Linked DNA regions of Homo sapiens. The protein of the gene in region 5 purifies or fractionates together with the protein of the main gene of each other region. This does not show direct contact. Each region holds a gene or a part of one and is shown on either strand. Other genes may lie near its edges.

Region 1 (4,037 bases), on a different chromosome or scaffold from region 5:
GGCTTTTATGCAGCCAAAAATATATATCACTGTAGTCTATGGCGAATTTATAAAAGCCAACAGGGTATTCAAAAGGGACAAAATATAGTACTGGGTTAGAAAATAAGACATTCAAAAAACGTATTAAGCTTAGTTATTAATAAGCTCTCACTTTCTAAATTCTTTAAAATTCACAATATATTAATTCTCCTACTTGACATTTTCCAATGCTACTTCTGAAAATTCTTTTAAAATTAAATTTATTAAAAATACTATTGAGAAGGATAATACTCATATGTACATTTATGAAAACAATGCTTTTATTTTAATGTAGCATCACCTAAGATTAATTATTAAATTTTCTTCAAATAACTGATTACTTTGCAACAAATTAAAAGTATTAGAAGTTTGAAGGAAGGACAGACAGATATGTATGTTTAACATCTAAACACATTTAAAATATCACATTAAAAATCAGAAAAATTAATCTGAAACAACTATATTATACTAAATACTACTCAAAAGCTGGCTATGAAAAGAGACACATATTCAGATCACAGAGAAAATATTCAAAATAACTACTCCATGGTGATTTCTTATGTTAAACTTCTGGTTTTCTGAATGTATAAAATTGTAATTTTTATTTTATAATTATAAAACTATAAGATTATAAAATTCCATGATAAAATACAACAAAGATTTATACTATGAAGATGAAATGTCCCTAAAAGAAAATGTGATAAGTTTACACCGTTTCCTTTGTTATTTTTTCCTCTACCTTACTCACTGCACATTTAAATAGAAAGAAAGAAGATCAATTTGAATGCATTTACCTCACCAAACGGAGTGTAAAACTGCACAATGTTCACATCTTTGTCCTGCATGGCTGCCTTCTGGAAGCCTGCCACAGCTAACACGCTGCCCATGTGGTTCCACTGGATGCCTACTACGTACATGCCAGTGTCAATCAAAACGGGATCTAGTCAGAAAGAGAAAAATGAGGTCACTGTGGGAAAATACGTAGCCTAGAGAACTTTATAATCTTAAGAACAACTTTTAAACATTTTTAAAACTTTCCACATTTTTAAAAAAACAGGGCTGGGTACAACGGCTCACGCCTATAATCCCAACACTTTAGGAGGCTGAGGCGGGCGGATCACTTGAGTCCAGGAGTTCAAGATCGGCCTGGGCAACATGGTGAAACCCTGTCTCTACGAAAAATACAAAAATTAGCTGGAGGAGTTGGTGCACACCTGTGGTCCCAGCTCCTCAGGAGGCTGAGACCTTGAGCCTGGGAGGCCAAGGCTGCAGTGAGCCAAGAACGCACCACTGCACTCCAGCCTCGGCAACAGAGCAAGACCCTGTCGCAAAAAAAAAAAAGTTAAAAATTAGAAATTGAGGCCGGGCACAGTGGCTCACGCCTGTAATCCCAGCACTTTGGGAGGCTGAGGCAGGTGGATCACGAGGTCAGGAGATAGAGACTATCCTGGCTAACAGGGTGAAACCCCGTCTCTACGAAAAATATAAAAAATTAGCCAGGCATAGTGGCACGCCCTGTAGTCCCAGCTACTCGGGAGGCTGAGGCAGGAAATTCGCTTGAACCCGGGAGGCAGAAGTTGCCGTGAGCCAAGATCGTGCCACTGCACTCCAGCCTGGGCGACAGAGTGAGACTCCATCTCAAAAAGAAAAAAAAAAAAATAGAAATTAAAAAAATTTTTTAAACAGAAAAATTCCTTACTTTGGTCATTCTCATGTCTCATTATTTGGCATCTTCCATTATCAAAGCAAACAGCAAGGCAAGGGCAATCAGGCTCCACGTAGCCTTCTGTGCCATGGTACCAATGAATTCCAGCAATGCTGATAGCTCCAGTGACATTCACCAAACAACTCAGTTTCATTTTTATCTAAATAAAATTGGTTAGGTTTAATATTTTACATTTTAAAACACAGCAGTATAGAGACAATACTCAATAGAGTATTGTAGAAAGAACACTGAAAAATACAGTCTAAAAATCAGGTGGCAAATTAAAGCTTAATCACTTACTGGTATACAGGCCATGGACAAATCACCTAAATGTCCATTTTCCCCACATGTAAAAAATGAGGATTAAAAAACACTGAGTTTTTATGAGACTCAAACAACAAGTATATAAAAGTACTTTGAAAACAGCAAAATGACATAAAAGTTCATTATTTTACTTCCACCAGTGAGTGGATTTACTTAATGTCCTAACCCTTGCTAAAAAACAAAACTGCCCCACCAGTAATCATACATCTATGATAGCTAAACCTTGCAAAGCCAGAATTTTTCTCCAGATTATGCTGCCTGATCCTATTCTATTTTACCTTCTTTCCAGGGATTGATTTTTCTCACTTACCATTTAAGTCTGTCATTCTTTTTACAAACAACCATTGGTAGCTTGCTACAAAAATACCCTGTGGTATCTACATGTAAACTTTGGCTTCAGACACCAGAAGACACCTATAAAACTTAAACTGCACATCGCCCTACTCATTATCTCTCTGCTTAAATGCACTGACACCTCGTCCTTTCTACCTACCAAAAAAAATTGGAACTAAAAGCTACACTCGAACTTGTTGCACTAATTTGCCTTGAGAAAACCAAAATTTTATTTAATTAAAACAAAATTTAGACGATTGGGAAAAAGAAAAAAAATCTGAATTGAAGACTTTAATTACACAAACCGCCATAAAAAATAAATGTATATACAAACATGAATGATATGTACGATAATCATATAAAATTGTATAAACAAGACTGATGCATACACTTACTTACCATAAAATTTCCTTGATTATCGTAAATGTGTATTTCCCCATTTGCCATTCCAAAAAGTAAGACTTTACTGTCCGCAGACCATGTTACATGGGATAGCTGTATACCCTTCAGGTCTTTTCCCCAAATACGATTGCCTAAAACAAAACATTATTAAAAGTTGTTCAAGGTCATGATCCTCCAACAACGGCTTTCGAAATCTTTGTTTTTCTAAAGATCTCACAAATTCTTCACAGCATTCATGCATTCATTCAATTTATTTGGCCAATAAATATTTACTGAGCACCTATATGTGCCTGAAAAGACATCTGAAATAGCAGCTGTTTCAACCTTTCTCCCCTTTCTTCTAAACTCTGATGCTGGATCTCACTCCCAATTAGCAGTTGAGCCCATCTTCTATTTTGGAAAGAAAATAAAAGCACCCAAAAAACAAATTCCTCATTCCCATCTTCAACAATTCAGAACATAACTGAGTCCATGCTTACACTTTCTGCGTTGCCCACTAATACAAAAGAAGAGGTATTTCCCCAGTCAGTCCCCTATCCAAGGCTAATTCCTCTATGTATTCTCTGATCTAATCCCTTCCTACCTTTGCAAAGATCTCCCTTTATCGACTACTCTCATTTTCTCTTTCTCATTAAACTCTTCACTCCAGGGCCTTTCTTATGTGGATTTAAACACATGCAGATCTATTTCTCTTTGAAACCATCACCCTAAATAAAATAAACACTTTTATTAACCCCAAGTTCCCCCTCTAACTACTATTTCTACCATTCCTTTCCCAACCAAACTTCATGAAAGAGTTCTTCACACCTATAGTCTCCACTTCAACTGCCACTCAACCCTTAACCCCTCCCAATCTGGCTTCTGCCCCACAACTCCATTGAAACTGCCTACAACATACACTATTTGGGTTATGGTTATATACTAATAGTCCAGACCTCACCAATATTCAATATATCCATATAACAAACCTGCACTTGTACCCTCTAAATCTATAAAAATAATAAATAAAAAAAGAAGAAACCAAACCTGTTGACATCTTGATCTTGGACTTCTAGAGTCTAGAACTCTGAGAAAATAAATTTCTGTTGTTTAAAAAAAAGAAAGAAACTGCCTTCATGGACGTCACTGATGGCCTGTTGCTAAAGCCAATTGATACTTTTTTTTTTTTTTTTTTACCACTCCCTCCTTCTTGAACTCTCTTGGCTGCCATTAGCCCATATACTCCTTTATCTCTAAGACTCTTATATTTCTCGAC
Region 2 (4,037 bases), on a different chromosome or scaffold from region 5:
TGACAGTGCGAGACTCTGACTCAAAAAAAAAAAAAAAAAGAAGAAAGAAAGAAAGAAAGATAATATTTAGAATTCAGTCCTCAGTCACACTAGCCACACTTCATGTGCTCAATAGCCACATGGCTAGTGGCTACCGTATTGAGTAGCACAAACATATCCTCAGGAGGGCTGAAGCTAATAATAAAACATTGCATTGATGGCACATTTTGTCTCCCCAATCACATATACTTCTAGTACTTCATTTGCCCCACACTAGACCTCATAAAGCTGAGTGGGAGCATAGATTATTTTCATTTGTTAAATGAGAAAGTTGAGAAGTCTATGTTTGGGGCCAGCATCACAGGGTAGGAGGCAGGATTCAGGTGTGGGCCTGCTGGGGCCAGCCTGCTTTTCTCAGCCATGTGGCCCCTGAGCTGCAGGTGTGGGGGCTTTGTGGCCTGCATTTGATCCATTGTTGGTTGGAAAGAAAACAAAAATTTTACCTCCAAGGCGGGCGGATCACAAGGTCAGGAGATCGAGACCATTCTGGCTAACACGGTGAAACCCCGTCTCCACTAAAAAATACAAAAAATTAGCCGGGCGTGGTGGTGGGCGCCTGTAGTCCCAGCTACTCGGGAGGCTGAGGCAGGAGAATGGCATGAACCCGGGAGGCGGAGCTTGCAGTGAGCTGAGATTGTGCCACTGCACTCCAGCCTGGGCGACAGAGAGAGACTCCATCTCAAAAAAAAAAGAAAAAAAGAAAAAGATTTTACCTAAAAAATAATAAGCCATACTAATATTTGATATGTTATACAGTAATACATATATATACACACATATATATACACGTACGTATATAAAACACATATATTAGAGAATTGGGCCCCAAGGTCGCTCAGGAAGTGCTTGATGCCATTTCTCCCCGTTTTGTAATTCTTGTTCTGCCTTCTCCCCAGAGTTTGGTGGGGTGACTCAGCACCTGGACTCTGTGAAGAAGGTCCACCTGCAGAAGGGGAAGCAGCAGGCCCAGGTCCCCTGTCCTCCACAGCTCCCAGAGGAGGAGCTCTTCCTAAGAGGCCCTGCTCTAGAGCTGGTGGCCACTGTGGCCAAGGAGCCTGGCCCCATAGCACCTTCTACAAACTCCTCCCCAGTCTTGAAAACCAAGCCCCAGCCCATACCCAACTTCCTGTCCCATTCACCCACCTGTGACTGCTCGCTCTGCGCCAGCCCTGTCCTCACAGCAGTCTGTCTGCGCTGGGTATTGGTCACGGCAGGGGTGAGGCTGGCCATGGGCCACCAAGCCCAGGGTCTGGATCTGCTGCAGGTCGTGCTGAAGGGCTGTCCTGAAGCCGCTGAGCGCCTCACCCAAGCTCTCCAAGCTTCCCTGAATCATAAAACACCCCCCTCCTTGGTTCCAAGCCTCTTGGATGAGATCTTGGCTCAAGCATACACACTGTTGGCACTGGAGGGCCTGAACCAGCCATCAAACGAGAGCCTGCAGAAGGTTCTACAGTCAGGGCTGAAGTTTGTAGCAGCACGGATACCCCACCTAGAGCCCTGGCGAGCCAGCCTGCTCTTGATTTGGGCCCTCACAAAACTAGGTGGCCTCAGCTGCTGTACTACCCAACTTTTTGCAAGCTCCTGGGGCTGGCAGCCACCATTAATAAAAAGTGTCCCTGGCTCAGAGCCCTCTAAGACTCAGGGCCAAAAACGTTCTGGACGAGGGCGCCAAAAGTTAGCCTCTGCTCCCCTGCGCCTCAATAATACCTCTCAGAAAGGTCTGGAAGGTAGAGGACTGCCCTGCACACCTAAACCCCCAGACCGGATCAGGCAAGCTGGCCCTCATGTCCCCTTCACGGTGTTTGAGGAAGTCTGCCCTACAGAGAGCAAGCCTGAAGTACCCCAGGCCCCCAGGGTACAACAGAGAGTCCAGACGCGCCTCAAGGTGAGGTGGGACTGTTGCTAGGTGGTGGTGATGGTGTTGGATGGGGTTAGTCCTGGAGGAGAGTGTTTTATAGAGCAGGTGTCCCTGTGGAATAGCTCCCCAGGGCCTAGTGGAACTTTAATCTCCTGCTATCTGCAGTACCCCAATATCTTGCTTTTTTGTTTTTTGTTGTTTTTTTGAGAAGGAGTCTCGCTCTGTCGCCCAGGCTGGAGTGCAGTGGCGCAATCTCAGCTCACTGCAAGCTCCGCCTCTTGGGTTCACGCCATTCTCCTGCCTCAGCTTCCCGAGTAGCTGGGACTACAAGCGCCTGCCACCATGCCCAGCTAATTTTTTGTATTTTCAGTAGAGACGGGGTTTCACTGTGTTAACCAGGATGGTCTTGATCTCCTGACTTCGTGATCCACCCGCCTCGGCCTCCCAAAGTGCTGGGGATTACCGGCGTGAGCCACCATGCTCAGCCTCTTTTTTTTTTTGAGACGGACTCTCACTCTGTCGCCCAGGCTGGAGTACAATGGTGCGATCTCGGCTTACTGCAACCTCCACCTCCCGGGTTCAAGCAATTTTGCCTCAGCCTCCCGAGTAGCTGGGATTACAGGCGGGTGCCACCACACCCAGCTTATTTATGTATTTTTAGTAAAGACGGGGTTTTACCATGATGGCCAGGCTGGTCTCAAACTCCTGACCTCAGGTGATCCGCCTGCCTCAGCCTCCCAAAGTGCTGGGATTACAGACGTGAGCCACTGTGCCAGGCCAACATCTTTCACAGCAAGACCTATTTCCAAGTCTCCCTTTGTTTCAGACAGAGACATTTTCCTTAACTCTAATGTTTCTTTTACCTTTTCATCCCACCTTCTGTTCCCTCATTTTCTCCCTCCTTCCACACCCAAGAGTCGCTGCCCCTGATCTAGAGTGTTGGCTGTCATGTGAGAAGTTAGTTCTGAAATCTTCCAGGGTCCTGTGTGATGGTGCCTGATGGTGCCTCCACTACGCCACCTGCTGTCACAAGGTGTCTTGTCACTGAAGACCTCTTAGCCCTTCACCCTTTCACTCTGATCTCAGGTGAACTTCAGTGATGACAGTGACTTGGAAGACCCTGTCTCAGCTGAGGCCTGGCTGGCAGAGGAGCCTAAGAGACGGGGCACTGCTTCCCGGGGCCGGGGGCGAGCAAGGAAGGGCCTGAGCCTAAAGACGGATGCCGTGGTTGCCCCAGGTAGTGCCCCTGGGAACCCTGGCCTGAATGGCAGGAGCCGGAGGGCCAAGAAGGTGGCATCAAGACATTGTGAGGAGCGGCGTCCCCAGAGGGCCAGTGACCAGGCCAGGCCTGGCCCTGAGATCATGAGGACCATCCCTGAGGAAGAACTGACTGACAACTGGAGAAAAATGAGCTTTGAGATCCTCAGGGGCTCTGACGGGGAAGACTCAGCCTCAGGTAGGACAGCAAGGGTGAGGTGGAAGGTGCATGTTTTGGGGGTTTGTTCTGGGGCAAAGCACAAGCAGTAAGTGCTGCCAAGGAAGTACAGGAAGAATGTTCTTTTGCTGACTCTAAGGGAGTGGATTACAGAAGGAAGAACAAAGAGAATGGCAGGGGGAGGGAGCACTGTGAAAAAGGCCTGCTCTCTCCCCAGGTGGGAAGACTCCAGCTCCGGGCCCTGAGGCAGCTTCTGGAGAATGGGAGCTGCTGAGGCTGGATTCCAGCAAGAAGAAGCTGCCCAGCCCATGCCCAGACAAGGAGAGTGACAAGGACCTTGGTCCTCGGCTCCGGCTCCCCTCAGCCCCCGTAGCCACTGGTGAATATGCGACCCCTGATGTTGGTCACTTGGAGAGGGCTGAGCCTCTAGGGCTTTTGACCCCTCTGTCTTTCCAGGCTGGGTTCGGATCTGGATCCAGTAGCCTCTGAACCTGTGTTTGAACCCCAGCACTCTGTCTATGAGCTGTGTGCAGGTCACTTAACCTCTCCAAGCTTCTATTCCTTCTGTAAAAATGGGGTTTAGGGAGCATGGTGGAATAAGTTGATGCCTGTTAGTTGCATGGCACCCCACTTGGCACATTGCCCTTCATAAATGGTAGTTGCTGTTTGCCATGTGGGAGATGAGATAGGGACTGTTCCTTCTTG
Region 3 (4,037 bases), on a different chromosome or scaffold from region 5:
TCAGTTGAATCAGCATTGTTTGAGCTCCTGCTGTGTGCTAGTTGTAGTGACTGTAAGATGAAGGAGGGTCAATTTGAGAGAGATGAATGAACAGACCAAAGCCCGTCAGGATGAATTATACAAAGCTCAGTATGTAAACAAATCAGTTGAGAGGGGCTGGTGGGGGAATTGGGACAGGAGAGAGAAGTCCCAATTTGGGGTCTTGCTGCATCTGGAGTTGGTGAGATGCCCTCTGGGCAGGAGGTGCCCCTCAGCAGGAAGGCTGCAAATTAGGGGAGGAGCTGAAGGGGCTCTGCCAGCTGCATCTACAACTCCATCAGCCAACCAAGCCAAGCAGCCCTTCCTTTAGGCTCTGACCAAATAGTTTTGAGGGCAGTACTTGGCTATGGGTGTTAAAAATGGATCATTCAAGTTCCAGATCATCTGATAAGTCATTTTCTTCAAATAGCTCAAATTCTGCATCTTTGTCCACGTTGGCAGGTTTCTCGTTTTTGGGCCACTCAAACCTATCTCTTAAGGAAAAGGGGAGTAGAGTGACATGTCCTGTAGTTTGAGAGGAGTGGTGGTAGGGTTGCTGATGAGGAGAGCAGCCACAGGCTGGGTTGTTGGCCCCTAGATTCTGATGTCAGCAGGCTTCCTGGAATGTGTTTGGTAGGACCCAAACAGTGGCAACCAGTGAGGACTGGAAATGTGGCAAAGAAGGCTTAGCAGGGCTGGGACAGAGGTGGGATGGGATTGGGAGATTATAGTTCTTGCTGGTGTGAGGGTAAACTTTGCAGTTCTCTTGCTCAGTCTTCCTCCTTTGATTGGTGGCCTGCACAGTGCAGCAGAATGGCATGAAATTGAGACTCAACAGTTCTGGGAGCTAGTGTGGCTCTGTCACCATTTCACTATGTGACCTTGGACAAGTCTTTTCCCAAGTCTAGGCACAGTTTCCTTCTCTGTGACAAGGAGTTGCCATCCCCCACCAGGCCTGAGTAATGGGTGGCTGAGGAGGGCAAATGGGGGGGTATGGGAGTAGGGAGTGCTTTATAAAGTGGTAAATACCCTGAGGGTGAAGGATATCTGTTGATTTGCATTTCCTTTGATGTTGGTACTTTTAGCTGAGTTTGACCTGGGCTAGAGAACCTGGCTAGTTGAAAGTCCCAGATAATCCTTGGCTGCTAGCCAGTAGCTGACTCTTTTAGGTCCCTGAATATCAAAAGTTGGCTAAATGAGCAAGTAAAGCCTCCTATGACATGACCACACAGTTATCTTCATTTACCATTTGCCATTTGGGAAAACTGAGCCCCAAGGAGGTTTGGTGACTTACCCACAGAGCCCTAGGGAGCACCCTACTCAACCTGACTGAGATGATTTTACTTCTAGAAATTGTTCTACCACAGTTTGAATAAAATATGAATAAAAGTTGGTTACTATAATGTTTTTAGCTTCTGCTATGTAATGCACTTGATTTGGTACATTATGTGCATTGGTTTTACTTCTTACAATAGCCTTAAGAGGTAGGCACTCTCAATGACCTCATTTTACAGTTAAGGAAATTGAGGCATAAACATGGGAAAAAACTTGCTGGATTTCCCCTAGCTGGGCAGAGTTGATTCCAGCGCTGAAATGGCCAGCTCTCTGGAGGGCCATCCTCACCATTTTTTCTTTAACCAACCCTCCCCAACATACAGAAGGGCAGGTGGGCCTGAAGTGGGCTTGCTTTCAGGAAGACTGTTTGGAACAGGCCTGAGGAACTATGGCTGGTCAAGGCCATGTCTCTGGAGCTACTGCATAAATCCACTTGCTTCTTTTTCTTCCCCCAATTCAGCCCTCTTCAAGTTGGCCATGCTGGCCCCGGGAAGCTGATTTGGAGCAGAATGTGCAAGGCTCATATTGCAGCTGTCCCTTCTCCTTGAGAAGGGTCTCTAGGGCAGGTATGTGGCTGGCCTCCTGCCTATGTTTTAAGTGGAGAGGAGAAGGAAGAAGCTCTTCCTTTGTAGCCAGCCTTCCACTGGCCCCAGAATGGCTTGAATCTGGCTCAGGGAGCTGGAATGGCCCCAGCGCTTTCTACCACAGCCTGCTTTCTGCCATGATAGCAGCTGCTGCAGCAGGCAGTCCCTGCAAGGGACCACAGAGTGGCTTGGGAGGGTTCTCTTAACCCCCAGCCCACCTGAAACTCAGCCACACTGGTTAAGGAACATGAGGGTTGTGGGGCCCTGCATTTGGCAGTGCCACTTTCTTGACAGGACCCCCAGGGAAAGCCAGTCCCAGCCTAGGGGATCTGCAGAGTCTGTCCTTTGCTGTCTCCTTTGCTTTCTGCCCCACCTCACTCTCTTGGTGAACTCTTGTGGTCCTAAGTAAAGGCAGCATAACCCATTGAGGAAGGATAGCTTTGGCACCTGGTTGGATAGCAAAGAGTATGGAGAAGAGGCCTAAGGCAGAGGTAGCTAGGTGGGGCTACGCTAGGGAGCTACCAGCTATGGGTGACCCTGCCACCTTCCTTCCCAGTGTTCTGGGTGACATAGGCAGAGATACTGTGAATGACTGTGGGGGGACATGGCTCTGGGAGAGAGAACACAGAGTACCAGTTTAAGGCTGGTATCTGCCAGCAAAGATGACTCTGGACTTGGTTAGGAGAAGGGCCTGAACTGGACGGAGAGAAACTCCATCCCAGGGACACCCTGCGTAATTCATCTGTCTCCCACAACACACAGAGAGGGCTTTTCAAACCTCTTAGCAGAGGAGTTTGTATAGATATACACACCTTTTTAAAATCCCCTCATATCTGTCTCCCTCTCAGCATGGGCCAAGGCAGCAAGTCCCTGAGCTTCCCACAGTGAATGGCTTTCCCAAATGAACAGCCTTTAACACATGGTCAGTTGCTTCCTAAGAAACTGGGATCTGACCTGGAAGGAGTAATAATAACTGTAATGACAGTCTTTCTCATTTGCACTGTACTATACAGTTTATAAAGTGCTTTTTTTGTGCCTATTATCACATCAACTCATCACACCACTGTAGTTGGAGTGGGCAGGTAGAAGGATAGGTAGAGGAGCTGTTTTGATCTCAAAATAGCTCACAAGTACCTGCGTCTCAGCAGGCTACACTGGCCCATTCAGGGTCCCTTGGCAGATGGGAGGCTGACATGGCCTGGACCCCAGCCCTGTGGTCCATGGCTCCTTCCACAACACACTGCAGCTCCCTGTGACAGGAAAGGGGACAATACAGAGAGAGGTGAGTGGGCTGGCCTCTACCCTCACAGAGCATAGGAGCAAGGGCAAGGGAAAGCCCAAAGAGACTGTCTTCTAACTGGGGCGTCAAGGCTCTGGAAAGCAGCCTTCTTTGTGATTCAATTTGCCAAATCACTCTGTTCCCAGGAACTCCAGCCCCAAACCCAGCAGGACAAGTCAGCCTTTGATTCACAAGGATGTGTAGGTCCTAGAGTTTTTCACTTGGCTGTGAGGTTTTCCTTGAGGCCCAGCCTTACTGCCCAAGAAGTGTCTTTCTCCCTTTCACATTTATCTTGGAATATGTTTACAAGGTATAAAGAATGATACTCCACCAACCAGCTTTAGAAATAACAGGGGCTATTCTTTAAGGCAGCGGTTCCCAACCTTTTTGGAACCAGGGACCTGTTTCATGGAAGACAATTTTTCCATGGATGGAGAGGAGGAAGGTTTTGGGATAAAAGTGTTCCATCTCAGATCATCAGGCATTTGTTAGATTCTCATAAGGAGAGTGCACCCTAGATCCTTCGCATGCGCAGTTTGCAATAGGGTTCACGCTCCTATGAGAATCTAATGCCTCTGCTGATCTGACAGAAGGCAGAGCTCAGGTAATGTTCACCTTGCCCTCCTGCCTGCCGGTCACTTCCTGTTGTTTGGTCCAGTTTCTAACAGACTGTTACATATAGGACTCTCCCTGTTAGCCTAGGAGCTCCTTAGAAGCAAAGGCTGGGAGTTCTCCCTTCTTGTCCTGCCCTGAAGCACTGAATTCCAGAGGGGAATAGAATTTCACAAACAACTCCAGTACTGCCTCCCCAACTCCCCTAT
Region 4 (4,037 bases), on a different chromosome or scaffold from region 5:
TCTCAAGACAATTGGAAGCAAATTCTCCAACTTTATGGCAGAAACTGCCTTCCCACGTCTTCGCTGTGTGTTGCATAAGAACACTTACTCAAAGGGTAACTTCTCATCATTTGGCTTGATGCATCGAACGTAGTGGGGCGTCGTCGCATTGAGGGTCTCCATGAGCAAGTACAGAGAGCTGCGGAACTAGGAAACAAAGCTAGAGATCAAACATGGCTCTGAAATAATTTACTGCTTACATCACGGTAAAAAGCAGCCCAACCTTGTTAAGTTACTCAATAGGAAGAAAAGTTAACCTCATGCATAAACACCTATTATGAAAGGTTTCAGTCCGTGACTGTGGTTTATCAGCATGTCCTACTGTTGTGGACAGAACACTAATACTCCCAGACAGCAGAGAACTGAATAAACCATGTTATTGTGCAAGAGCGTGGTTTGCTCCAGTGCGTGCTGCCTTGGAGGTGGAAGTATGACGACGATGAACTTTTTGCAGTGGAGTCCATGTTAGATTGGAAGAGCCCCAGCGTCTGTCCATGTCCAGGCCTGGAATGCGGGTCCTCTGAGTGCCCTGGCTCCCCAGGGCCTGGCCCTGCCTTTAGACCCCTCACTCTCAAACACCTTCTCAGTACCTTGCTCCCAACTGTGGTCCGGAAATGCTTGCTGTTTGGCTTGATGACTTGCTTTGCAGATTTAACTGTAATCATTGAACCAAAAGGAGAAGGAGGAGTTGGATTTTCTTGAAAAAAGTTGGCACAGAGATGAAACTGGAAGGAACAGAGAGGATCTCAATGTCCAAAAGCAACTGCCCACAGTACTCACTCATACAAGCCACGTAAATGGTGACAACAACTCAGCTAAACTAGTGGGCGGTGAACAACCTCACCAACATCTACAGCCAAATCTCAATTCCACAAGACGATCGTCTTTCATAGGGATGGCCCGTGACTTCTTTCCCGAGAAGGGGAACAGAGAAGAAAAGTGTGTAAATGTCTGTATGTGGGTATCACTCTAAGTGTCAGAAAGTGGAAACATCTACTATTCTCACCTCCGTGCCTGGCTCACACTGTGTCTCCACCTGCAATCTCCTCCCTCCTACTCCACATTCTCATCCCTGCAGATCCAAACCCTACCCAGGAATCTCTTAAAATGTTTTCCAGCCCCACCCACTTCGCAATGAATGAATTAATCCCAACTTCTCTGAACCGTCTTCATCTTGTATTTGTACCTCATTTAAAGCACTTACTACCTTCTGCTTTGTATCAGTTATTTCTTTAAATGTCTTATCTTCTCTCAGAGTGAATTTCATATTTTGTTTTGTTTTGTTTTGTTTTGAGACAGGGTCTTGCTCTGCTGCCCAGAAGAAGAGTGCAGTGGCGCAATCATGGCTCACTGCAGCCTCTATCTCCCAGGGCCAAGCAGTCTTCCCCACCTCAGCCTCCCAAGTAGCTGGGACTACAGGCATGTCACCATTCCCTGCTAATGTTTTTTTATATTTTTAGAAGAGACAGGGTCTTGCTTTTTTGGCCAGGCTGGTCTCAAACTTCTGGCCTCAAGCAATCCACCCGCCTCTGCCTCCCAAAATGCGGGGATTACAGGCGTGAGCCACCACGTCTGGCTGGAATTGTGATTCTTCAATGGTTCTATTAGCTGTCCTTCCTGTCATCTGCATGTTTGATTTCTGATTTTGCATATAGTAGAGATTTACAGTAGTTATCTTTTTGAATCTGTGAGCTACAACTTACCACTGTCCAGAGAGTTCACACACACACACACACACACTCTCTCTCTCTCTCTCCTTACTCTTTCCTTATATACATCTAGATCCATGTCAATTATATAATAACTTTAGTTACCCCTAGGACTTTACAGACCTTGCTTGCTCTCAGGATTTCAACCAGCATGTCATAGACGGTGTCTCTGTTTTTCTCCAGGAAACCTTCACATTTATACTCTACCTATACAGAGAAAGCAATTAATTATTCCCAAAGAGGCCAAAGAATATAGCCTCTAAGCACAAGTTTCATCTCTTTTTTAAGAAAGATTAATAAAAAAGGCTACAGAGGCAATCTTACAAAAAGACGTCTGGCTTCTGTGCATCATGGCAGCAGCCCCATTATGTATAAGCTGGGAATGTGTCTTCTCTCCCACCACCTGGGTTTCTCACCTGCCTGCTGATCACTCTGCACTCACCTGTTGGCTCCCTCTGGCCACAGGGGTCCAGTTGCTCCCTGCGGTATGTGCAGTTCCTACAAGAACACCTGACTTAGGTCTCCCTTTGCCTTTGAAGCCACCAGGAGGAGGAAAAAGCTTAGTGGTGTTCATTGGGTTCAAACAGACATCGTTTCCTAAATCAACATTAATGTGGTAGAAAGGATAGAAAAACCGACCAGCTGACCACCAAGCCTTCAAGAGCCACCAAGCCCTCAGAATCAGGTTTAGAGTGGGTCAACCTTTGCACTGCTTGAATCTAGCTTAGAAAAACTCTCCATGCTGCCCTTTCTGATGAAGAAGGCTTCTCGAATGCCTCAAACCATGGCATATCCAGGGTGGCTGCTTCAACATTCAACCTCCCCCTAGTTTATGCCTCTGGATTGCATATCTTAATATGTGATAATTTATTTTTCATAAATTAAAAACGTATATTAAAATTAATTTTAAAAATTGACAATGAGGAAACAGGGGAGAGTGCTGGAATCCGTAAGCAGAGGGTTCCCTGGGCATGGCCTCTGCTTTGTCCCCCAGGTAAGGAAGTATCCTTGCCGGTAGGTAGGTTAAGATCCAGGAACACCGGCTGTTTGCAAACACTTCTTTGTGAATGAAGTACCTGGATTGTTGTACAAATTCTTCCAGAATGGTGGTGTGAGCCACTAGGACAGATAGACAAAGGTGGCAAATACAGAGCTTTCCTGGTCTGGGCGAGCATCTGTGGGGACAGTGTCACATGCAGCTGGTGCCTCTGTTGGGGACTCTGGGACCAAAGGAAGATGTGCTGAGCTGCTACATCTAAGCTCAGCTGACTTGCATTCAATACGACCTGATTTCCCTGGCCAATGAGATTGAAAACCTAATCTAACCCCATAGTGCATGTGGGTTCTTCCCACCAATCAATCCATAGTCCAGCCCAAACGCTGCCTAGTTCTTTTAAGGGAGACTTCTTGGAAGTGGCAGGTGAGAGAATTACATGTCCAGAAACTACATCCTATAAAGAGAGACCCTTGAAAGAAATCCCATATGTGCTTTTTATGGAGTCTGGTCTTTCCCCCTCCCTTTTCCTATGGGACCAGAACCCTGAAATTATGACAATAGCTAGGAAATATAATTTGACATATGATCATTTCATTTCATAGGCATCTTTTCAGGAGCCCATCTGAAAAAGTCTAAGCACTAAAAACTTATCTTTTTTTTTTCTTTTTCTTTTTCTTTTTTTTTTTTGAGACAGGGTCTCACTCTGTCAGCCAGGCTGGAGTGCAGTGGCGTGATCTTGGCTCAATGCAACCTCCGCCTCCCAGGTTCCAGCAATTTTCCTGCCTCAGCCACCTGAGTAGCTGGGATTACAGGTGCGTGCCACCACGCCTGGCTTATTTTTGTATTTTTTAGTAAAGATGGGGTTTCGCCATGTTGGCCAGGCTGGTCTCAAACTCCTGGTCTCAAGCGATCCACCCGCCTCAGCCTCCCAAAGTGCTGGGATTACAGGTGTGAGCCACTGCACCCGGCCAATCCTATATTTTAATATTTTACAGTACTCTGCTAGCACACAAAGGTGATCACAGCTTTCCAGGTTGCTGTCCCCTCCCTCCACCATCAGTCACTCGGGAATGACCAGCTCTGACTCACAGCACCGGCCTCTGCGATAAACATAGACAAGCACAAGCCATTCCTGTGAGCCCTGGCACTGGGCTAGGCCACCAAGGCAACACCCAACCAGGACATGGGAGGAGGTAGGAGCTCCCTTAAGGAAGGAAAACAAATAAGAATGTACATTTAGGGCAGGTGGTTATGGCAATTTTTTCCTTCTGTTTTCTAAGCTTTCTATAATG
Region 5 (4,037 bases):
GATTGGAAAATTCCTTTCTGAAAGCAAGGCCCATTCCGTTAAAATGGCTGTTAGTTTGATCTAGATAACATAATACAGCCCAGATCTACCCTCAAGAGAAACCATCTACTGCACTTTCACCAACACCAAAGTGAGTGCCAGTTGGCCCTTTTCTTTTATTTTTTAAGACAGAGTTTCGCTCTGTCGCCCAGGCTGGAGTGCAGTGACTCGATCTCGGTTCACTGCAACCTCTGCCTCCCAGGTTCAAGCAATTCTCCTGCCTCAGCCTCCCAAGTAGCTAGGATTACAGGCTTTCGCCACCACGCCCAGCTAATTTTTGTATTTTTAGTAGAGACGGGGCTTCACCAAGTTGGCCAAGCTGGTCTGGAACTCCTGACCTCAGGTGATCTGCCTGCCTCGGCCTTCCAAAGTGCTGGGATTACAGGCGTGAGTCACCGTTCCTGGCCTGCAACTGGCCCTTTTCGATCAGTGTTCTGCCCTTTCTGAAGCTCGCTGTCTTTCCATGGCTGCACCTATTTTTTTTTTTTTTTGGACAGTCTCACTCTGTCTCCCGGGCTGGAGTGCAATCTCAGCTCACTGCAACCTCCGCCTCCCAGGTTCAAGTGATTCTCCTGCCTCAGCCTCCTGAGTAGTTGGGATTACTGGCGTGCGCCACCACACCTGGCTAATTTTTGTATTTTACTAGAGACAGGGTTTCACCACGTTGGCCAGGCTGGTCACGAACTCCTGACCTCAAGTGATCTGCCCACCTCAGCCTCCCAAAGTGCTGGGATTACAGGCGTGAGCCACCATACCATAAGCTGTATTTTAATGGCCATGTCCATGTCAAGTCAAATCCTCTGATTTGATGAATGGTACACACACACACATGCACGCACGCACGCACGCACGCACACACACAAGTCTCTGCCAGCTTAATCACCACCAGGAAAAAGAGCTTCTGATTGGGTGGCAGAATTTTAGCCCCACCCTCACCAGAGGTCCGAGGCTAGCCCTCTTCTTCCAATATCCTGAGTGATTGTGCATTTTCCTACCTTTTGGAAGGCCAAGTTTTCATATACACAGTCACCATCCATTCCAGGGTTTGGTCCCATATTGGGTGACTTGTGTGCATCTCCCATATCCTGGGAGTCACTCTCACCCTCTGCACGGGTCCCTAATGTGGGGAAAAGCAAGAGAGATCAGATTGTTACTGTGTCTGTGTAGAAAGAAGTAGACATAGGAGACTCCATTTTGTTCTGTACTAAGACAAATTCTTCTGCCTTGGGATGCTGTTAATCTATAACCTTACCCCCAACCCCGTGCTCTCTGAAACATGTGCTGTGTCCACTCAGGGTTAAATGGATTAAGGGCGGTGCAAGATGTGCTTTGTTAAACAGATGCTTGAAGGCAGCATGCTCCTAAAGAGTCATCACCACTCCCTAATCTCAAGTACCCAGGGACACAAACACCGCGGAAGGGCGCAGGGACCTCTGCCTAGGAAAGCCAGGTATTGTCCAAGATTTCTCCCCATGTGATAGTCTGAAATATGGCCTCGTGGGAAGGGAAAGACCTGACCGTCCCCCAGCCCGACACCCGTAAAGGGTCTGTGCTGAGGAGGATTAGTATAAGAGGAAGGCATGCCTCTTGCAGTTGAGACAAGAGGAAGGCATCTGTCTCCTGCCCGTCCCTGGGCAATGGAATGTCTCGGTATAAAACCCGATTGTACGTTCCATCTACTGAGATAGGGAAAAACCGCCTTCGGGCTGGAGGTGGGACATGCGGGCAGCAATACTGCTTTGTAAAGCATTGAGATGTTTATGTGTATGCATATCTAAAAGCACAGCACTTGATTCTTTACCTTGTCTATGATGCAAAGACCTTTGTTCACGTGTTTGTCTGCTGACCCTCTCCCCACTATTGTCTTGTGACCCTGACACATCCCCCTCTCGGAGAAACACCCACAAATGATCAATAAATACTAAGGGAACTCAGAGGCTGGCGGGATCCTCCATATGCTGAACGCTGGTTCCCTGGGTCCCCTTATTTCTTTCTCTATACTTTGTCTCTGTGTCTTTTTCTTTTCCAAGTCTCTCGTTCCACCTAACGAACCCACAGGTGTGGAGGGGCAACCCACCCCTTCACCTAAAGGATGAAAGAAGCCTGGACTAAGCTCAGGACAGCTGGATCCCAGGAGTGTGGGACACCATCATCAGTGCTAGCCAGAGATGGCCAGAACTCCTGGGTTCTCAGTCCCTACTCATGACTCAGCGCCCTCACTTGCAACAACCTCCTCCTCCTCCAGGTGCACGGAAGTCTACAAGGGCCAGAGTTTCTGATTACCCTGGATCTAAGGACAGGGAGGGGTTAGGGTCTTTCCTTTTCCTTATCTCAGACAAAGCATCACAGAGACTGAAGATGGGGGGATGGAGTTTGGGGTGATAATAATTCTGTCATTGAAATCATTGGCCATCTCATGAAAATAAAAGGAAACGTCACCACAATGGAATATTATAAGGGAATAAAAAGGAATGAAGTACTGATAATACTACCACACGGATGAACCTTAAAATTTTATGGCCGGGCACGGTGGCTCACGCCTGTAATCCCAGCACTTTGGGAGGCCGAGGCGGGCGGATCACGAGGTCAGGAGATCGAGACCATCCTGGCAAACATGGTGAAACCCCGTCTCTACTAAAAATACAAAAAAAAAAAAAAAATTAGCCGGGTGTGGTGGCCGGCGCCTGTAGTCCCAGCTACTTGGGAGGCTGAGGCAGGAGAATGGTGTGAACCCGGGAGGCGGAGCTTGCAGTGAGCCGAGATTGTGCCACTGCACTCCAGCCTGGGCAACAGGGCGAGACTCCGTCTCAAAAAAAAAAAAAAAATTTGTTAGGTGGGCCAGGGGCGGTGGCTCATGCCTGTAATCCCAGCACTTTGGGAGGCGGAGGTGGGCGGATCACGAGGTCAGTAGTTCAAAATCAGCCTGGCCAACATAGTGAAACCGGTCTCTACTAAAAATACAAAAATTAGCAGGGCGTGGCAGCGTGCACCTGCAGTTCCAGCTACTCAGGAGGCTGAGGCAGGAGAATCGCTTAAACCCAGCCAGGCAGAGGTTGCAGTGAGCCGAGATCGTGCCACTGCGCTCCAGCCTGAAGGGGGCCTGCCCCTCCACACCCGTGGGTATTTCTCGCAAGGTGGAGACGAGCGGCTGAGAGAAGAAAGAAGACACAGAGACAAAGTATAGAGGAAGAAAAGTGGGCCCAGGGGACCAGTGCTCCGCAAGTGAGGACCCGCACCAGCGCTGATCTCTGAGTTCCCTCAGTATTTATTGATCACTATCTTTACTATCTTGGTGAGGGGAATTTGGTGTGACTATAGGGTGATGGTGGGGAGAGGGTCAGCAGGAAAACATGTGAACAAAAGACTCTGTGTCATAAATAAGTTTAAGGAAAGGTGCTGTGCCTGGATGTGCACATAGGCTGGATTTATGTTTAACTTTACATAAACATCCCAGTGCAGTAAAGAGCAGTATTGCCGCCATGATGTCTCGCCTCCAGCCATAAGGTGGTTTTCTCCTATCTCAGAATAGAATGTATGGTCGGTTTTACACTGAGTCATTCCATTTCCAGAGACGTGCAGGAGACAGATGCCTCCTTCTTATCTTAACCGCATGGAGGCCTTTCTCTCTCACTAATCCTCCTCAGCACAGACCCTTTACGGGTGTCGGGCTGGGGGACCGTCAGGTCTTTCCCTTCCCACGAGGCCATATCTCAGGCTGTCTCAGTCGGGGAAATCCTGGACAATGCCCAGGCTTCCTTGGGCAGGGGTCCCTGCAGCCTTCCACAGTGTGTTATGTTTCTGGTTAATAGAGAATGGAGAATGGCAATGACTTTCACAAAGCATACTGCCTGCAAAACCATTTTTACCAAAGCACATCCTGCCCAGCCCTAAATCCCTTAAAACTTGAGTCAATATAACACATGTTTCTGTGAGCACAGGGTTGGGACAAGAGTTGCAGATTAACAGCATCTCAAAGCAGAACAGTTTTTCTTTTTTTT
Region 6 (3,649 bases), on a different chromosome or scaffold from region 5:
GCAGCAAGGCCAGGTTGAGCTGGGCCGGGTGCCCTGAGGTCAAAGGAAAGGAAACCCCAAGCCCCAGTGGCTGCAGAAGGCAGAGCTGGATGGAGGATCCGCGCCATGGCCCTGCCGGCCCCCAACCTTGGGTGCCCCTCGAGGCCCTAATTCCCTCGCTGCATTCTTGGCACCCACTTGGGTTCCCAGGAACAGCAACTAGGAGTGGCTTCTGTTCCCTCAGCAGCTCTCCCTCTCCCTCTCAGAGACTGGAACCCTAAAGGGAAGCCACGAGGCGGGTAAGGGAGGGCGGCTCCTTCTGCCAGGGCAGAGGCAGGGCAAGGGCATGGGCATGGGAGGCAAATCCTGGCAAGAGCTCGGGACTATTTCTTCAGGACCGTCTAGTTGGTGTCTCAAGGGCAGGGGCCATGACCAGATCAGGGAGAGGCCACCAAAGGGGGCTGAGGCAGACGGGCCTGACCTCCTGGGCACCCTCCCACCCTCCGTCACTGACACGCCCCCAGAGCCTGCTTGAGAATACCTGGGATGACAGATGCCTGGGGAAACTGGTGACACAGCTGAAGTGGGGTCTAGGGACGGTCAGCCAGCAGTCACTTGGCACCTTCCTGACAAGAGCAAAAAGGAACTGTCTGGTGGCAGAGGCACGCCTGCCAGACCTGTCTGCTCTGGTGTTAGCATCCCGCTTTCTCTTTGTCTGACTCTTAAATGCCTGCTCCGGCCCTCCCGGCCCTCCCAGATCATTTCCAACAGTCACACGACTGGTATCCAGGCAACCATTGCCTGGGCTCCCAAAATTCCACATCCGGAGGCTGACAAGTCATGGTGCCCCCGTGGAACACAGCTGGCTGCTTCATGTGTGGAGGAGCTGGGGGAGAACGGAAAAATCCACTCCCCACGCAGGGATGAGTTTCTAATTCTTGGCCTCAGAGGAGGTGCCTATAAAACTAATGAAATAAAACAGCTGCTCCTTGTGTTTAAAGGAAGACCTTTTACTGTACCCTGGTCAGGTCTGGGGCTCGATTCCATTTCACCGTCAGAAAGGTGAGAGGCAAAAGTTGGCCACTGTTAGGTCATCTATTTATCTCGGAGTCAAGGCATAGACACCAGCAGCTTGCTGCCCCCTTGCCCACTTCCCTGCCCTGACAGCTGGGGTTTGCCGGTCTTGGCTCTGGCATGTGAGGCAGGACAGCCTGCCAGCTTAGGGCAGGAAGCCACTCCACGTCTGGCCAGTGACAGCTTTTCCCCAGATGCCAGGACATAGGGGCATGGGACGTGCTGTGAACCCTGGAAGGCCTGACCCTGTCTGAGTGTTCTGGGCTGCAGGCAAGCCCTGGCTACTGCGCGACTTGGCAAAGCAGCTGCCACCAGGACTCCAGCTTTGGAACAGCCCAGCGAGGCGGCCCCCTCCAGATGGAGAGGTCAGGCTGGGACCACAGCATGCATGTGAGGAACTGCGCAGGGAGGCCCAGGCATGCAGCCAGTTGCTTGCTCTGCAGCCCAGCTCTAGGGCCCACCCAGTGCACCTCTGCAGCATAGAGGTCACTGGGGCCTTTGGGGGATGAGGAGTGGGGCTGAGAGTTACCCACTGGACAGGACTGGGGCTGGATAGAAACCCAGTGTGACTGACACTCTGCCTTCTCTGGACATAGGTCAAATAGGCAACATTCTTTGTCTACTACCAGGATAAAGAAAATAGAAGAAAGGGGCCGGGCGCGGTGGCTCACGCCTGTAATCCCAGCACTTTGGGAGGCTGAGGCGGACAGATCACAAGGTCAGGAGATCGAGACCATCCTGGCTAACATGGTGAAACCCCATCTCCACTAAAAATACAAAAAATTAGCCAGGCGTGGTGGTGGGTGCCTGTAGTCCCAGCTACTCAGGAGGCTGAGGCAGGAGAATGGCATGAACCCGGGCGGCAGAGCTTGCAGTGAGCCGAGATCTCACCACTGCACTCCAGCCTGGGCGACAGATCGAGACTCCGTCTAAAAACAAAATAAATAAATAAAAGAAAATAGAAGAAAGGTCAAACTCAGAAGTCACACTCAGAATTTAATTTCTCCAAAAGTTGTTTCTGTGTTTGATTCATGTAGAAAATCACAAAGCCTTCTCGCCTTTTCTGAGTGGGCGGGATCCACAGCTGGCTTACTTCTGGACACGGAGCATGGACTGAGAAGCAAGAGCTTCCTTCCAGGAGAGGCACCACTCAGAGGCAGGCCCGGCTGCACAAGTCCTCCCTGCTGGGCCTGGTCACTGCAGCTGCCCCTCCCTGGCTGGCTCCTCTCTCCTTTCCCACCCAACTGTTCACCTTGTCACAGGGCTATGTCTTGGCTCTTGGCTAAGACTTTAAGGGCCCACACAGCAGAGAACAGCAGAGGACAGAAGCCTCAGATCCTGACGACCTGCACAGCAATGCATGGGCTCTGCCTCTCTGCCCCGTCCGCTGCCGGCCTCCTAAGGTAGAGTCGGGCGAAGGTGCCTCCCACCTGCCCTTTGGTAAGGCGCCCAGGGTTCACACAGACACAGCCGAGGACATCCTGGGGAGGAGAGGAGAGGTGACAGGTTTGGAGAGCCTCAACTAACTGGGAACCAATGTGAAAAAGAAGTGCCATCACATGGCTGGACCCCAAAGAGGGTTTTAGAAAATGGAAACGAAGGCAACCAAATCACCAGACACATTTTCAGTCACTTTTTTTTTTTTTTTTTTTGAGATGGAGTCTCGCTCTGTTGCCCAGGCTGGAGTGCAGTGGTGAGATCTCAGCTCACTGCAGCCTCGACCTCCCGGGTTCCAGCGATTCTCCTGCCTCAGGCTCCCAGGTAGCTTGGATTACAGGCACCCACACCACCATGCCTGGCTAATTTTTGTATTTTTAGTAGAGATGGGGTTTTACCATGTTGGCCAGGCTGGTCTCAGACTCCTGACCTCAGGTGATCCACCCACCTCGGCCTCCCAAAGTGCTGGGATTACAATTGTCAACCACTGCGCCCGGCCTCAGTCACATATGTTAACTTGTCACTAGAAAGCTTTGAATTCCTTTTAAGTCTTTCAAACAGAAGAATGAGGTGACTTGGCAGAATGACAATCAGCTCCTAAACTTGGAGACAAACCTGATCTAGCTGTTTACTGCTTTCTCATGTGAAAAACTTTTTTTTAACCTCTTGAGATTGAACTAACTCTTGTTTGGCAAGAGGGGGACTGGTCTAGGCAGATTCCTTGTAAGGGACCTAACTCCAAGGCAGGCAGGGCTAAAGGGTGGCAGAGATCAAAATGACCCAATAGCTTCTTCAAGGTATTCCCAGCTGAGCCCACTTGGAGGTCATATCAGAATTTGGGAGGCAGAGGACAGGCAAGTGTACATATGAAATCTTCCCCAGGTCACCTCTATGTGGCCTGGTGAAAGCCCTCATTTGAGGGCCTTCCTAGTCATCTGGGCTCTCGTTCTCTTGGGGAGGGAGGAGAGGACACTGTTTACTCAAGCATTTTACTGACAGAGTTGTTTGTTTTCTGGTCCCACCACCTCCCCAAAGAAACAAGGCCACAGGGCAGGGTGCTAGAGGCCCCATCCCCATCAGCTGACCCATGAGGGGTGAGTGCCGGGTGGTCTAGAAGGGAAAGTCAAAGACTGGGTTCTGGTGTTTCTGGGAAAAAGCA
Region 7 (4,037 bases), on a different chromosome or scaffold from region 5:
CAACTCGGAGCCGTTCTGAAAGTAACAGATTTTTTTCCTTAGAAAATATATGTACATTCTCTTCCTCATCTCCTGGTGCTATTTACAAGGCATGAAATGCCATAAATAGGAATTCCGTGGTTACACAAGGCCCCCCCCACAAAACACAAACTTCATCTGGGCAAGAAACACATTCTGACAGTTTAACTCTTTATTCTCCTTCACAGCCCAGCAGACCCCAAGGCGGGCAGAGGGTGCAGGCCGTCCCCAGGATGCTGGTCATGGGCCAGGGTCATCCTTGCACCTGCGGCAGTAGGGGCAGCAGCCATGCTGAAGCACCAGCAACTCATAGTCCTCAGAATGGAACATCTAAGGGAAGACAGCTGTAAGACCAGGCTGAAGCCCTAGTGCTCATCAGCCCTACGCCTGGGGCCAGGACGCACTGCCTCTCAAGGGGAGGGGGCTTGGCAGTGGTCAGGGCTGGACACAGACCTGCAGCACCTTTGTTTGAGGGCTGGAAGGGGAGATGGGAGGGGGCTGTGGGGTTTCTTGTTTTCTGAGTGAAGGTCAAGGGCACATCACGCTTGCTGGGCCCCCAGGATTTGGGGAGGATGTGGACAGCGCAGGGGCCAGTGAAGTCCACTTTAGATGCACATGGAATGCAAGCAGGGGAGAGGACAGACAAGCCTCTGTCCCAACTTGGAGCCATGGATGTGCCCCTCCTCCCAGGGGCCACGCCTCCCAGAGGGACATTTGGGCAAGGGAAAAGTGGCCAAGAGAAGCACATGTGAGCTACCAGGGTGGCCACCTACCTGGAAGCAGGAGGGGCACATGGTAATGGAGGCGTCAGGCAGCAGTGAGCGGAAGTATTGCCACCTCAGGGGTGGGGGCCATCGCTTGATGAGGACATCCCGGCGGCTCATGGAGCGCAGCACCAGCCGGCTCACCACCACTGGCACGAACTCTGAGCCACCTTGCTGCAGGGTGGGCGGGAAGGAGGCACAGTGTCCTCACTCAGCCACAGTGAGACATCTGTGTGGATTATGATCCTGGAATCTTTGGCAGTGGTGAGAGAGGACCTGCTTCCTAAACCCAGGTGACCCTAACAGTGGCAAGCTCCTCCCACCAGAGCTGAAGCTGCCTCCCTGTCCACAGACCTGCGCCCTTGGCCATGGTCCCTCGGGGGCAGCCATGGCTCCCACACCCCACAGGAAGGGGTCCTGCCCCTCCTTCGTGCCACCACATCTGGAAGTTCTGGCCAATCCTCCTCCACCACTGCGCTAGCTGAGGGTCCCCATGTGCACAGGAGAAGGGATGGAGGCTGCCCTCCTGCAGGTCACCCAGAGAGGCACCCTCACCTCAAAGCTCAGCTTAGCTGTGAACGGGTCCTCATCTCCGATGGAGTCCTTGGTCTCCACTAGCCGCAGAATCTGGGAGCCTGGAGGGATCTGGTCAAGGATGGAATCAGAAGCAGAGATGGAGACAGACCCTAGCCTCCACCCTACACCCCTGTGAGAAGACTCAAGGGCAGCCAGACCAGTGGAAGAGTTTTCCAGGTGGAGGAACAGAGGGGGCTCAGGCCAAGGAATCAGAAGGAAGGGACTCTGCTGGCCCTGCTGCCCTCACCCATTCCCCTCGCAGGCCACACACACCATAGCTCCCAGGGCCAGTGGGAAGCACATGCGGGCCCTGTGAGCCACTGCGGGTAGGCACGGAGGGGATGGGCCCAGGGATCCTGGAGAAACATTCAGTGGCTGCTGGGGGTCTGCGGGCACTTGTGATGGAGCAGACAGGGGCGAGAGTCCCTGCTGACCCCAGGGCGGGTCAGACTCACCTGGAGGTCCCTGGAAACCGCCCCTCTCCCACAGTGGTGGGGCTGGTAACAGAGGCCAGCAGGGGTCCTGCAGGGAGGCCCAGGACATGGGGACTGCTGGTACCAAGTTGGAGTGGGCACAGCACCCACCTGCCAGCACCATAGCACATATCATCTGTGGCACCTGAGGGAGCCTGGGTGGCAGAGATGGGTCCGTCTTTCCTTCAGCAAGCAGCTCTCTGAGCTTCCCTCCTCCCAGTGTGGCCCCTGGGGGTGGCAGCACCTGGGAGCTGCAAGGAAGGCAGGCTTACAGCCCCCAGGCCTGCAGACTCAGTCAGTGCAAGGGAGCGAGGCCTCAGGCCACGTGTGTGCTGTTCCCTGCCAGAAGCCCCTCCCATGTCCAGCCTGCAAGTGTGGCCTGCCCTGGACAACTGCCCTGGTGCATCCTCCTGGCCAAGGGGCAGGCTGAGCTGTGCCCCGGGGCTTTCACTGCCACAGCTGAGAGGAAAGCTGGCTGTTTCTGGGGGCTATAAGGCTGAGGGGATGTGGGGCTGGCACTGCTCCTGACATCTCTGTGTTATGGGGGCACCACGGGGCTGCCAAAGAATGAAGTTGCCCAGAGGACAGTGCGGCCAAGAGAGGCAGAGCCAGCCTGTGACCGACCAGACTGAGCGCTGGGCCAGGAAGCTTCCTCTCCTGCTTGGGGCTTCCTTGCACACCCTTTGCTTGTTCAGCTTGTCAGTTTTGGACTCTGTCACTTGCATGCGAAAGTGACTTGAGTGGAAGAGCTGGGGGCCAACACCGACATCATGACATCATGTCCCATGTTGGCTATGCAGGAGCTATGCACAGACAGAGGCACAGCCAGTGCCTTTTAGGGGTCAGGGGAGGGTGGGAGACCCACACGGGAAGACCAAGGTGCCACTTGCCACTTCTGGGTCCTTAGGCCCTGGCCAGCTGTCTGCCCATCTCTGATCCCTGTCCCTGTCCCATGTGGGCCTCTCCAATCTCTCTGGGAACACAGGGCCAGGCTCAGCATGGCCCGCGATCCCCTGGGACTGGGCCCTCCTACTTCCCGCCTGTCCCCAGACCCCTCACACAGCCGCACACACAGGCTCTGGCCAAGGGCATGGATACTGTTGTTTGCAATCTCTAGCTGTCTGTCATCCCGCTTGGGTCTCAGCACCTCCAGGTCGATGAGGGAGATGGCTTCTTCATCAGTGATCCCTTCCTCCAGGTAGAACTCAACCAGGTGTAGCACGTCTGGAGGGCATAGAGAAAGGGCTGAGGGGGCTGGAGGCCTTGCAAAGGACTTGCCGCCAGGCAGGTGGGGTGACCACAGAGTTGCTTCTCAACCCACTGGCAGCTTCACCAAAAGCAAGAAGAGGCAGCAGGGGCAGTCTCTGTATGTGTGTGCAGGAGCAGTCTCTGTGTGTGTGTGTGTGTGTGTGTGTGTGTGTGTGCAGGAGCAATGTGTGTGTGTGCAGGGGCAGTTTCTGTGTGTGTGTGTGTGCAGGGGCAGTCTGTGTGTGTGTGTAGGGGCAGTCTCTGTGTGTGTGCAGAGGCAGTCTCCGTGTGTGTGCAGGGGCAGTCTCCATGTGTGTGTGCAGGAGCGGTCTCTGTGTGTCTGTGTGCAGGGGCAGTCTCTGTGTGTGTGTGCAGGGGCAGTCTGTGTGTGTGTGTGTGTGTGTGCAGGAGCAATCTGTGTGTGTGCAGGGGCAGTTTCTGTGTGTGTGTGTGTGCAGGGGCAGTCTGTGTGTGTGTGTGTAGGGGCAGTCTCTGTGTGTGTGCAGGGGCAGTCTCCGTGTGTGTGCAGGAGCGGTCTCTGTGTGTCTGTGTGCAGGAGCGGTCTGTGTGTGTGCAGGGGCAGCCTCTGTGTGTGTGTGTGTGCAGGGGCAGTCTCTGTGTGTGTGTGCAGGGGCAGTCTCTGTGTGTGTGCAGGAGCGGTCTCTGTGTGTCTGTGTGCAGGGGCAGTCTGTGTGTGTGTGTGCAGGGGCAGTCTCTCTGTGTGTGTGTGTGTGTGTGTGTGTGTGTGTGCAGGAGCAATCTGTGTGTGTGCAGGGGCAGTTTCTGTGTGTGTGTGTAGGGGCAGTCTCCGTGTGTGTGTGTGTGTGCAGGGGCAGTCTCTGTGTGTGTGCAGGGGCAGTCTCTCTGTGTGTGTGTGTGTGCAGGAGCAATCTGTGTGTGTGCAGGGGCAGTCTCTGTGTGTGCACGCAGGGGCAGTCTCCATGTGTGTGTGCAGGGG

Evidence for each region.
Region 1: the proteins of TULP2 (region 5) and WDR35 purify together in Homo sapiens (affinity purification with mass spectrometry; 2 studies listed by BioGRID and IntAct, with this or other methods). This does not show direct contact.
Region 2: the proteins of TULP2 (region 5) and ESPL1 purify together in Homo sapiens (affinity purification with mass spectrometry; 2 studies listed by BioGRID and IntAct, with this or other methods). This does not show direct contact.
Region 3: the proteins of TULP2 (region 5) and AMER1 purify together in Homo sapiens (affinity purification with mass spectrometry; 2 studies listed by BioGRID and IntAct, with this or other methods). This does not show direct contact.
Region 4: the proteins of TULP2 (region 5) and MYO5C purify together in Homo sapiens (affinity purification with mass spectrometry; 2 studies listed by BioGRID and IntAct, with this or other methods). This does not show direct contact.
Region 6: the proteins of TULP2 (region 5) and POLA2 purify together in Homo sapiens (affinity purification with mass spectrometry; 2 studies listed by BioGRID and IntAct, with this or other methods). This does not show direct contact.
Region 7: the proteins of TULP2 (region 5) and IFT122 purify together in Homo sapiens (co-immunoprecipitation; 3 studies listed by BioGRID and IntAct, with this or other methods). This does not show direct contact.

Annotation. Positions count from the first base shown.
Region 1 is NC_000002.12:19,972,751-19,976,787, forward strand, and holds part of WDR35 (WD repeat-containing protein 35), read right to left. Parts: intron 2,914-4,037; coding exon 2,780-2,913; intron 1,884-2,779; coding exon 1,718-1,883; intron 959-1,717; coding exon 813-958; intron 1-812. UniProt on the Homo sapiens protein: As a component of the IFT complex A (IFT-A), a complex required for retrograde ciliary transport and entry into cilia of G protein-coupled receptors (GPCRs), it is involved in ciliogenesis and ciliary protein trafficking.
Region 2 is NC_000012.12:53,284,989-53,289,025, forward strand, and holds part of ESPL1 (separin), read left to right. Parts: intron 1-935; coding exon 936-1,924; intron 1,925-2,983; coding exon 2,984-3,353; intron 3,354-3,549; coding exon 3,550-3,711; intron 3,712-4,037. UniProt on the Homo sapiens protein: Caspase-like protease, which plays a central role in the chromosome segregation by cleaving the SCC1/RAD21 subunit of the cohesin complex at the onset of anaphase. During most of the cell cycle, it is inactivated by different mechanisms.
Region 3 is NC_000023.11:64,195,323-64,199,359, reverse strand, and holds part of AMER1 (APC membrane recruitment protein 1), read left to right. Parts: intron 1-4,037. UniProt on the Homo sapiens protein: Regulator of the canonical Wnt signaling pathway.
Region 4 is NC_000015.10:52,246,829-52,250,865, forward strand, and holds part of MYO5C (unconventional myosin-Vc), read right to left. Parts: intron 1,956-4,037; coding exon 1,872-1,955; intron 765-1,871; coding exon 630-764; intron 187-629; coding exon 89-186; intron 1-88. UniProt on the Homo sapiens protein: May be involved in transferrin trafficking. Likely to power actin-based membrane trafficking in many physiologically crucial tissues.
Region 5 is NC_000019.10:48,888,476-48,892,512, forward strand, and holds part of TULP2 (tubby-related protein 2), read right to left. Parts: intron 1,157-4,037; coding exon 1,035-1,156; intron 1-1,034.
Region 6 is NC_000011.10:65,296,005-65,299,653, reverse strand, and holds the end of POLA2 (DNA polymerase alpha subunit B), read right to left. Parts: intron 2,535-3,649; coding exon 2,385-2,534; 3' UTR 1,983-2,384; coding exon of another isoform or gene 1,941-1,982; 3' UTR 969-1,940; downstream 1-968. UniProt on the Homo sapiens protein: Accessory subunit of the DNA polymerase alpha complex (also known as the alpha DNA polymerase-primase complex) which plays an essential role in the initiation of DNA synthesis.
Region 7 is NC_000003.12:129,516,487-129,520,523, reverse strand, and holds the end of IFT122 (intraflagellar transport protein 122 homolog), read right to left. Parts: intron 3,056-4,037; coding exon 2,930-3,055; intron 1,418-2,929; coding exon 1,338-1,417; intron 957-1,337; coding exon 792-956; intron 349-791; coding exon 259-348; 3' UTR 17-258; downstream 1-16. UniProt on the Homo sapiens protein: As a component of the IFT complex A (IFT-A), a complex required for retrograde ciliary transport and entry into cilia of G protein-coupled receptors (GPCRs), it is required in ciliogenesis and ciliary protein trafficking.